3 separate regions of the Homo sapiens genome follow, and all the other regions are linked to region 2. The links come from fine-mapping of genetic effects on gene expression. A gene starts in region 2. Each other region holds a variant in brackets. All regions are shown on one strand. Distances are from middle to middle.

Region 1 (2,765 bases), 130 kb after region 2:
CCAATAGTCACATTGTTTGGCCAGTTTGCAGTATTTGTAACGACAGAATAAATAGAACAGACCTCTGCTGGTCTAATTTAAAGATTGGGGTGTTGATAATGACTTCCCTTTTCCCAGCATTGTTATAAAATGTGATTGCTTTTAAACATGCTTTCCTTAGATGCAGGGTGCTATCTAAAAGTGGTTGAACAGATTTACTCTTGACCTCCTCCTGTCCAGTAAAGGATAGCATCTAGTTTATCCCCTGAAACTTTCCTGTTTAACTTTTGGAAATACAGCAACATAAACAATACTTTAGATTTCTGGCCTCTTCTCTAAGAGCAGGACCCTGATATTTAAGTAGAAAGTAGAAAGAAGCTCTCTTCAAAGCTTGATCCTGTTTGATCTACATGGTCATTTTAGATAGTGGATTTATTTATCTCACTAAAACATGAGCATTTTTTATATGCAAGTGGCCCCATTGAGACACCTGAGTCGGGGGAAATGAGTGACAATTGAGAGGGCCACCTTTAAGGCTGGGCCACTGTTACTAGAGTACCCAGAACAATAACACAGTGGTGTTACTTTCTGCAGGTTGTTCAGATTTCTCTCTTATTCCCTATGTGTTGCTAAAAATAAAACCACAGCATATAAATTTCACTCATCTATTGGCAAACTCAGTGAGGTAGCTTCACCCAACATTAATAATTTATGCCTTGGAGGTGAGAGTATCAAAAGCAACCATTATGTTTCCAGGAGTCTCGGCTCCGGTAAGCATCTCTTCCTGTCGACTTCATTTGTGAGCAAATAATACCCAGTATTAACGGAGATACAGGATTCACCAGCCTTATGATTTTTATTTTTACCAGGTTTTTGGTAGTTCTGAAAATGGAGTTTATTCTTGTCATCCAGAAAACATAGAAATAAATAATGAGGCATAAAAATTTCATACATCTTCCTTGGAGGGAGGAGGAATATTGTTTAGCTTGTCAACATTATAATAAGTATATGAAGGTACCATTATAAGTGCCTGCTTCATGTTCATAATAGGATTAATGTATTTACTCAGTGCTCTGTATGATAACAGATGCCAAATTTCTTCCTTCTTTGAAAAGTAAAACAATTGATAATGACAACAATATTTCCCAAAATGTAATGAGATGACTCCGTTTTTTGGTTCCTGTTCGAGTGTAATGGTACATTACAGAGTCTCATTTACTGGCAAACTTCTGCTTATAACTGGATAACTTGAGAGCTTGCTTAATTTTAGGCAAATACTTCTTTTAGAATTTTTACAGTTGAGTGCATAAAATGAGACAGGAATCTGGTGAGTGGAACTGGAATATGAGGTAGGGCTTGGTCTCAGAAATGAAGCTGAAGATTCATTATTAGCACATGGGTCTGACATTATCAGGCCAGGTTTCCTTTGCTTCTCCTGAGTATGAGGCACAATGAAACCTAAAGGAACAGCAGGGAAC[G/A]CCAACTGCAGACAAAGAGAACAGAGAATCTCATTCTAATGATTCACAGCGATGCCTTACTGCTCATAATGTTTCAGCTCAAATCAAACAATCTCTGCTGGCCAGGAGATGGCCATCTAGTGAGACAAAGTAAACCACCCATAGCTAATGGATTGGTTTACTCCTGTTATTTTCTTATTTATTGTACTTTAAATAATTGTACTTTATTTAATTGTACTTTTAAAATTAACCTTTCTCTGTTTGTAAACATACTACTTGCTTGAATTACTTTAAAACATACTTTGGGAAATACAGAAGTGAATAAAAAATAAAATCAGGCATAAACCCCATAACAATCATTTATGTTTTTATGCCTAATATAAATAGAAATACAGAAATATAACTTTTTTTTTGAGATGGAATCTCGCTCTTGTTGCCCAGGCTGGAGGGCAATGGCACGATCTTGGCTCACTGCAACCTCCGCCTCCCGGGTTCAAATGATTCTCCTGCCTCAGCCTCCCGAGTAGCTGGGATTACAGGCATACGCCACTATGTGTGGCTAATTTTGTATTTTTAGTAGAGACAGTGTTTCTCCATATTGCTCAGGCTGGTCTCGAACTCCTGACCTCCACTCGCCTCGGCCTCCCAAAGTGCTGGGATTACAGGTGTGAGCCACTCACTGCACCCGGCCAATATAATTTTTTTTCTAAACAAAATAGATCTGAATTTCTTACAATGCTAAACATAATCTTACCATATGTCTAGAAATCGTGCTCCCAGGGTATTTTCCCAACTGATTGGAAAAACTGTAACCATACAAAAACCTTTATGTGAATGTTGGTAACAGCTTTATTCATAATCACCAAAAACTGGAAGCAACCAAGGTGTCCTTCAATAGATGAGTGGACAAGCTGTAGTACATCCAGACAATGGAATATTACTTAGTAATAAGAAGGAATGAGCTACCAAGCCATGAAAAAAACATGGATAAGTGCATATTGCTAAGTGAGAAAAGCCAGTCTGAAAGATACACACTGTATGATTCTACTTGCATGATATTCTGAAATAGGCAAAACTGTAGATTTCCAGAGATTTGTACAAAAAAGAAGGGTGTATAGGTGAAGCACAGAGGATTTTTCTTTTAGGATGGTGAAACTATTCTGTATGGTACTGTAATGGTAGGTACATGTTACTATACATTTGTCAAAATTCATAGAGCTTTATAGCAAAGAGAGTGAAATTTAACGTACATAAATTAAAAACACAAACAAAAATGAAAGCCTGGGGATCTCGGTATAGAATGCAGACTGTGACAAAAGAGTCTAACAG
Region 2 (2,765 bases):
CCAGAATATGGATATTTTGTAAAAATGGAATGTAAGTTGAGGTTCCTGAACAATGTGATGTTAGGCAGGGTGCGGTGGAATTGGCCTGTAGTCCCAGCTACTTGGGAGGCTGAGATGGGGAAGATCCCTTGAGGAGGATCTCTTGGGTTCAGGAGTTCGAATCCAGCCTTGGCAGCAGACCCCATCCCTGAAAACAATAAAAATTAAAACAACAACAGTGGGATACTAGTCTTTTAATTTGAAAAAAAAAGGGGTGGAGAAAGGGAAAACCAGTTTTCAAAAAAGGCCAATTTCCTAGACATTAGTGGTTGATTACTAACTCATTTCATTAAACTAAATTATGAATTGGCTTTTCTCGTCAGTGTCACCACTCTGATGGCGTTCTTTTCCATTTTCCATCTTCACCCTGGCCGAATGTGGGAAATGATCTGGTTTGTGCATAATCCGCGAGGCCCAGGGAGGATCTTTTGCCCCTATTGTTTTCTTGGGTGTTCTCACTCTGGGGGCCTGACATTCCTCGCGTGTCTAAGGCAATGAGGGAGCAGTGAAGCGCGGGGAAGCCGCACAAAAGACATCCAAAGGCTATCAATGGAAAAAGATCAATTAGGTGCACACAAGAAACACCCAATATGCCAGGGAAGAGAAAAATACCCTTTTCCAGAGGGTGGGAAATTGATTGAGCTTCTGTGAGGGTCCACAAAGAACTGGACGGATGCAGTGGTGGATGGCGATCTCTCTGGACCACTCCGGACGCGCCCAGCAGACGCAGCCTACGCCTTTAGGTCCTAGGAGGCTGAGAAGGGTGGGGAGAGGGGGGCAGCACGATCTTGTGTCTTTCCTCCCCGTGCCGCCTCTACCGAATCGCGGATGCTTCATTAATCTTGCAGGCGCCGCAGCTCGGGTCAGTATGGAGGCGGATCGGTGGCAGAGCCCGGGCCTCTGGGCTGCGCCCGCCCGTTCAGCCTGGCCCGGGAGGGGAGCGGCCGCGCGGTGGGCCAAAGACGCCCGGCCTTCCCTCCGTCTGCTTCCAGCAGGCACAGCCGGGAGGCTGGGCTCAGGGGCTGACCCGAATCTCCCCTAGAGCTGGGCCCACCCGGCTGCCCCCCGAGCAGCCTCGCCGCTCCCACGCCACCGCCCAAGTGACAGGCCCGGGAAGGCCGGACGGGACGCAGTCTTCCCGCCGGGGTCTTCCCTCCGGCTGGCCGGCCGCTGCAGGGCGCGCGCGCACACACGTACACACACACACACACCTGCCCACACACACACACACACACACACACACACACTGCCGCCTCCTTCCCGCCCCGCAGCCCTAGCAGCCCCCAACCCGCTCCCCAGCGCGCTGCGCCCCGGCGGCCTCCGCAGGCCCCGCCCCGGGGAGGAGAGCCAGGCGCGCGCGGGAGCTAGGCTCGGGGAGGGGCCGGCGGTGGGGGAGTGTCTGCTGCCCCCGCCCCTCGAGTGAGTGACTGAGCGAGGAGCTCCCCTCCCTCGCTCGCTCCTCGCAAGCTCCCGCTCGCTCCCTGCCCACTCCCGGGGGGACGTTCCGTGCCGCGGCCGCCGCGGCCGCTGCTTCTTTCACACTTTAGTTGGGAGCTGCGCGCCGCGCTCAGTTACTGGAGAGCTGGCCGCGCGCCGCCGCCTCCCGCACGCTTGCACGCGGGCCCGGCTTCGGGGTTTTGGGTTCTTACTCCAAGCGGCGGGGAGGAGGGGGAGCCCCGGACACACTGTGGGGAGGAGGAGGAAGAAGAGGAGGAGGGAGGAAGAAAAAAGACGAGGAGGACAGGGGCGGGGGGCGGGAGGCTTGCCACCTTCAGCCCCCCCGCGAACGCCCAAGGTAAGTGTGAGCCATTGCCTGCTCTGGGGCGGGGGGAGCTGGCGGTGCAGCCCGCCCCGGCTCGGCTACCCGGGCATCCCCGGGTGGGCAGGGAGGGAGGCCTGCGGGGTGTCTGCCGCACGGAAGGGATGGGAGCCGCGGTCGTGGCGCTGCCTGCGCGGGGCCCGGGCCGGGGCTGCTGCTGGTGCGGGGCTGGCGGGGTTGCTGCCAGGGACGGAAGCTGGGGTGGGGGAGCCGCGAGGGGCGTCTGCCGGCCTGGGCGGAGGGGCTGGGATGTGGTCGGGGCTGCTGACGACTTTCGTCACATCGAGGCCTGGGTGGCTGGTGTTAGACACCCCTCCCTTCCCACCCGCACCCTGCCGCCCTCAGCCTTCCTGCTCTCCTCTAGCTTTGCATGTAGCCACCGTACTTTGCAAGCCAGAGCTTGAAAGGAAAAACACAATTTAGGATCCTTTGCTAAGTATCCAAGTCCCTTCTCTCGCTCCGACTGATTGATGTGTTTGTGTGGGTGGTTTGACCCCCGGGATTTCTGAAGTTTTGACCTTTTTGGGGTGGCTCGTTTCGTTGCATCTGTTTGCCCACCTCGGTGTATTTATTATTCGTGCCCATGCGAGGCAGCCAGAGGGTGCTTGGTTATTGTACACGAAACAGATTTCACTCTCCTCTGCAGGCAGTTCGCGAAGTGCCGCCGCCGCGGCTGCCTTTGGTCTGCTGGTTAATGTCCTTTCCCTATCATCCACCCTGCTCCCTCCCTCTACGGAGGGTTAGTTTTTGTTTTTGTTTTTGTTTTTTCCTTTCCACTTACTGTTTGTGTGAGAGAAGTCCTGGGCTTAAGGGCTCTCAGCACTCGTTCATTTCTCTTCTAAAGCTCTGAATGGCTCAGGCATGTCGGTAAAATTTGGGGTGGTCCTCTTTGCTCCAAGAGTTGCAT
Region 3 (2,765 bases), 220 kb after region 2:
TTTGTCTTTGTTTCCTCAGAACCTAGCACAGGGCTTGGGACAAAACAGATGCTTAAGAAACTTGTTGAATGAGTGAATGGTGCAGATAAGAACACTGGGCTTCAAATGGAGACAGAAGCATACAAAGGCAGGAAATGTTACCTGGAAGACTCCTAGAGTAGACATCTCTACTTGGAGCAGCGTAGCAGGTATAGAGCAAGCACAGTGCCAGATAATTGGATTGATAGAGGCCAAGGGAAGGAGGCAGCATGGTGCAAGAGAAAGAGCCCATGCTTCAAACCTGGGCCAAAGCCAAGGATTGGCTCTGGCAGCAGCTGTGTGACCCCAGGTTAAGTTAAACTCTCTGATTCTCAGTTTTCTCACCAATAAAATTTGAGAAATAATACTAACTGGTCTGGGATATTGAAGAAAATACACAGAGTCTCCAGTAGTGTTTGCTGTGTTGTATGTGCTCTGTAATTGGTAGCCTTCATTTTGGTTGAAGTCGCCTGTGTTTGTACCATCAAGGCCATTTATACAGGAAGGATTTGGGATGGGCTTGTTGGGGGTGGTGCTAAACCGAACCTGAAAATGCAGAACTTAGAAACTTGGATCCTGCGTGAGCAAGTGCCTTCCTACGGTACAAATATCTCCTTGTAGAAAGAGTAGTAGAATCGCACAGTTTCCAGTGTATTCATCCACCTCCCTCCTATGTGGTGTAATAAACATGTTCAGGAGTTAGATTCTTGTGAACACTTACAGAGCCATTAAATAACCTGTGCTAACTTTCGAGCTGTGATTACAGAATGAGTCAGTGAGTCAGTGGCATGGATACAGCTACAGCTGAATCCCTATATATTTTTTTCTGTTTGGAAGTTTTACTCTTAATTGTTGTGTCTCATTTGAAAGGCTTTTATAAGCCTTTTAAAAGATATTCATTGGCCAGGTGTAGTGGCCCATGCCTGTAATCCCAACACTTTGAGAGGCTGAGGTGGGAAGATCACTTGAGGCCAGGAGTTTGAGACCAGCCTGGGCAACATTGCAAGACCCTGTCTCTACAAAAAATAAAAATAAAAATTAGCCAGGTATGGTGGCATTCACCTGTAGTCCCAGTTACTTGAGAGGCTGAGGCAGGAGGATCACTTGAGCCCAGGAGTTTGAGGTGGCAGTGAGCTGTGATTGTGCCACTGCACTCCAGCCTGGGTGACAGAGCAAGACTTTGTCTCTTAAAAAACAAAAAAGTATTACTATCAGCCTAAATATGCTTGTAACAACAACAAAAAAAATTTAGGAAAGGGGCTCCAAACAAAATCATAGAAATTGTAAGACTGACTTCTTTGATCCATTTAATAAGCTTGACATGAACATGTTCTCTGGACCTAGAAATGAGCCAGGGCCATGAGAGGCACATAATGAGGAATGATAAAATAGGATTCTTGTCTTTAGGGAGCCTCAAATCTGGAAGAATAGCATTTTGCATTGGAAGGAACTTTAGAGAATGTCTTATCCAATTTACCCTCAACTTTTCATCTCCCACTAAACAGCACCCTCCATAGCAAAGAATGAGACATTCCCGTTTATATCAGCTGGGAAGGAATTATGAGGCA[C/T]ATTATGTTCTGAACATTGCTTGAAAAATTTATTCTGAAGTATTATGTTATTTCTGGTGCACTTTATTCCTCTCTTTCACAATTCTATCAAGTGCAGGCACATTCTGCTCTGTTCCTAGAGAAAGCATTCTTGGAGCAGACACTTCTAGACTCCCCTCACTTCAATTCCATTTTTCTAAGTTGATTCAAAAAGGAGTACCAAAAAATTGTAAGCTCATATTTACAAAATTGATTGTTGGAGGCTTGCTTAGAGATGCATAATCATACCCTGCCTCTCTTCTGGGCTTCTTACAAATTGAAAACAGGCACAGGGAGCCGGATGAGTATCATGGTCAGTATCTACCTTATTAATGGGCCGGATGATTCCCAGGTGTGGATCTAGAGTGAGTTTGGAATATATTTATAACACTTAAAACATCAAATGATTTGTAGGCATAATATATAAAGAAGTAATATTAGTGCAAACCGGTAAAAACCATCAATTAAACTACAATAAAGTTCACTGCAGCATTCTTTATTCAACAGCCAAAAAACTGGAAGAAAACTAAGTATCCACCCATGGAGAAATGAATAATTAAAATCCTCCATATTCATACAGTGCAATATTATGCAGCAGTTAAGAGACATAAACCAAGCATATAGATATATATATACACATGTGTATATACACATACATATATATGTGTGTGTATATATACATATATATGTGTGTATATATATACATATATGTGTGTGTATATATATACACATATATGTGTGTGTATATATATACATATATATGTGTGTGTATATATATACATATATAGAGAGAAAGAGTCACAATTATAGATTTCAAATACAATTATTAAGTGAAGAGAGGATTATGCAGAATGATAAAAATTGTATGATACCATGTACATTAAAAACACACAAATACATTGTTTATAGATGGACATTCAACAAATATTTATTAAGCACCATCAGTTTTTACATGGCATATTTACAAATGGCATGTGTTTTTATCTGTTATATATTTAAATATTCATATACACATAAAAGTGTAGTATATTTGTTATATCGATATAAGATGAATATCAAAGTATCTAAAATGATACCAAACATACAAACCGACCAAACCCATGAACATTGCTGTGCCCGGGGATGGGGAATGAGAAATGGGTGGTAGTTTCATTTCTTAGA

Which allele goes with the higher level. Positions count from the first base shown, and alleles are read on the strand shown. Sizes are in standard deviations (SD) of each study's normalised expression. Not every link is listed here.
For the expression in esophagus muscle of the gene that starts at base 1,495 in region 2, allele C in region 3 goes with a higher level than allele T (moderate effect, 0.51 SD a copy in GTEx).

What was found. PIP is the estimated chance that this variant, and not a neighbour inherited with it, causes the effect.
Region 1: its variant is fine-mapped to the expression of C1orf21 in whole blood (TOPMed, PIP above 0.99).
Region 3: its variant is fine-mapped to the expression of C1orf21 in esophagus muscle (GTEx, PIP above 0.99). The same link has a PIP of 0.9 or more in aorta, esophagus mucosa, gastroesophageal junction, subcutaneous fat, thyroid and tibial artery.

The regions. Positions count from the first base shown.
Region 1 is chr1:184,519,062-184,521,826 of GRCh38, forward strand. All of the region lies in intron 3 of C1orf21 (chromosome 1 open reading frame 21), which reads left to right. Among named protein-coding and RNA genes, the nearest start is that of C1orf21, 130 kb to the left of the region's middle. RefSeq lists an enhancer at 1,187-1,748. The variant G/A (reference allele first, on the strand shown) is at 1,458.
Region 2 is chr1:184,385,535-184,388,299 of GRCh38, forward strand. It overlaps C1orf21 (chromosome 1 open reading frame 21), which reads left to right and starts at 1,495. Exons shown (of 6, transcript NM_030806.4): 1 at 1,495-1,834. C1orf21-DT (C1orf21 divergent transcript) reads right to left here and starts at 1,170. Exons shown (of 1, transcript NR_172919.1): 1 at 219-1,170. RefSeq lists silencers at 981-1,040, 1,131-1,240, 1,271-1,530.
Region 3 is chr1:184,605,375-184,608,139 of GRCh38, forward strand. The region is part of intron 5 of C1orf21 (chromosome 1 open reading frame 21); the gene reads left to right. LOC107985236 (a long non-coding RNA gene) reads right to left here. Exons shown (of 4, transcript XR_001738328.3): 4 at 2,085-2,765. Among named protein-coding and RNA genes, the nearest start is that of EDEM3, 150 kb to the right of the region's middle. The variant C/T (reference allele first, on the strand shown) is at 1,587.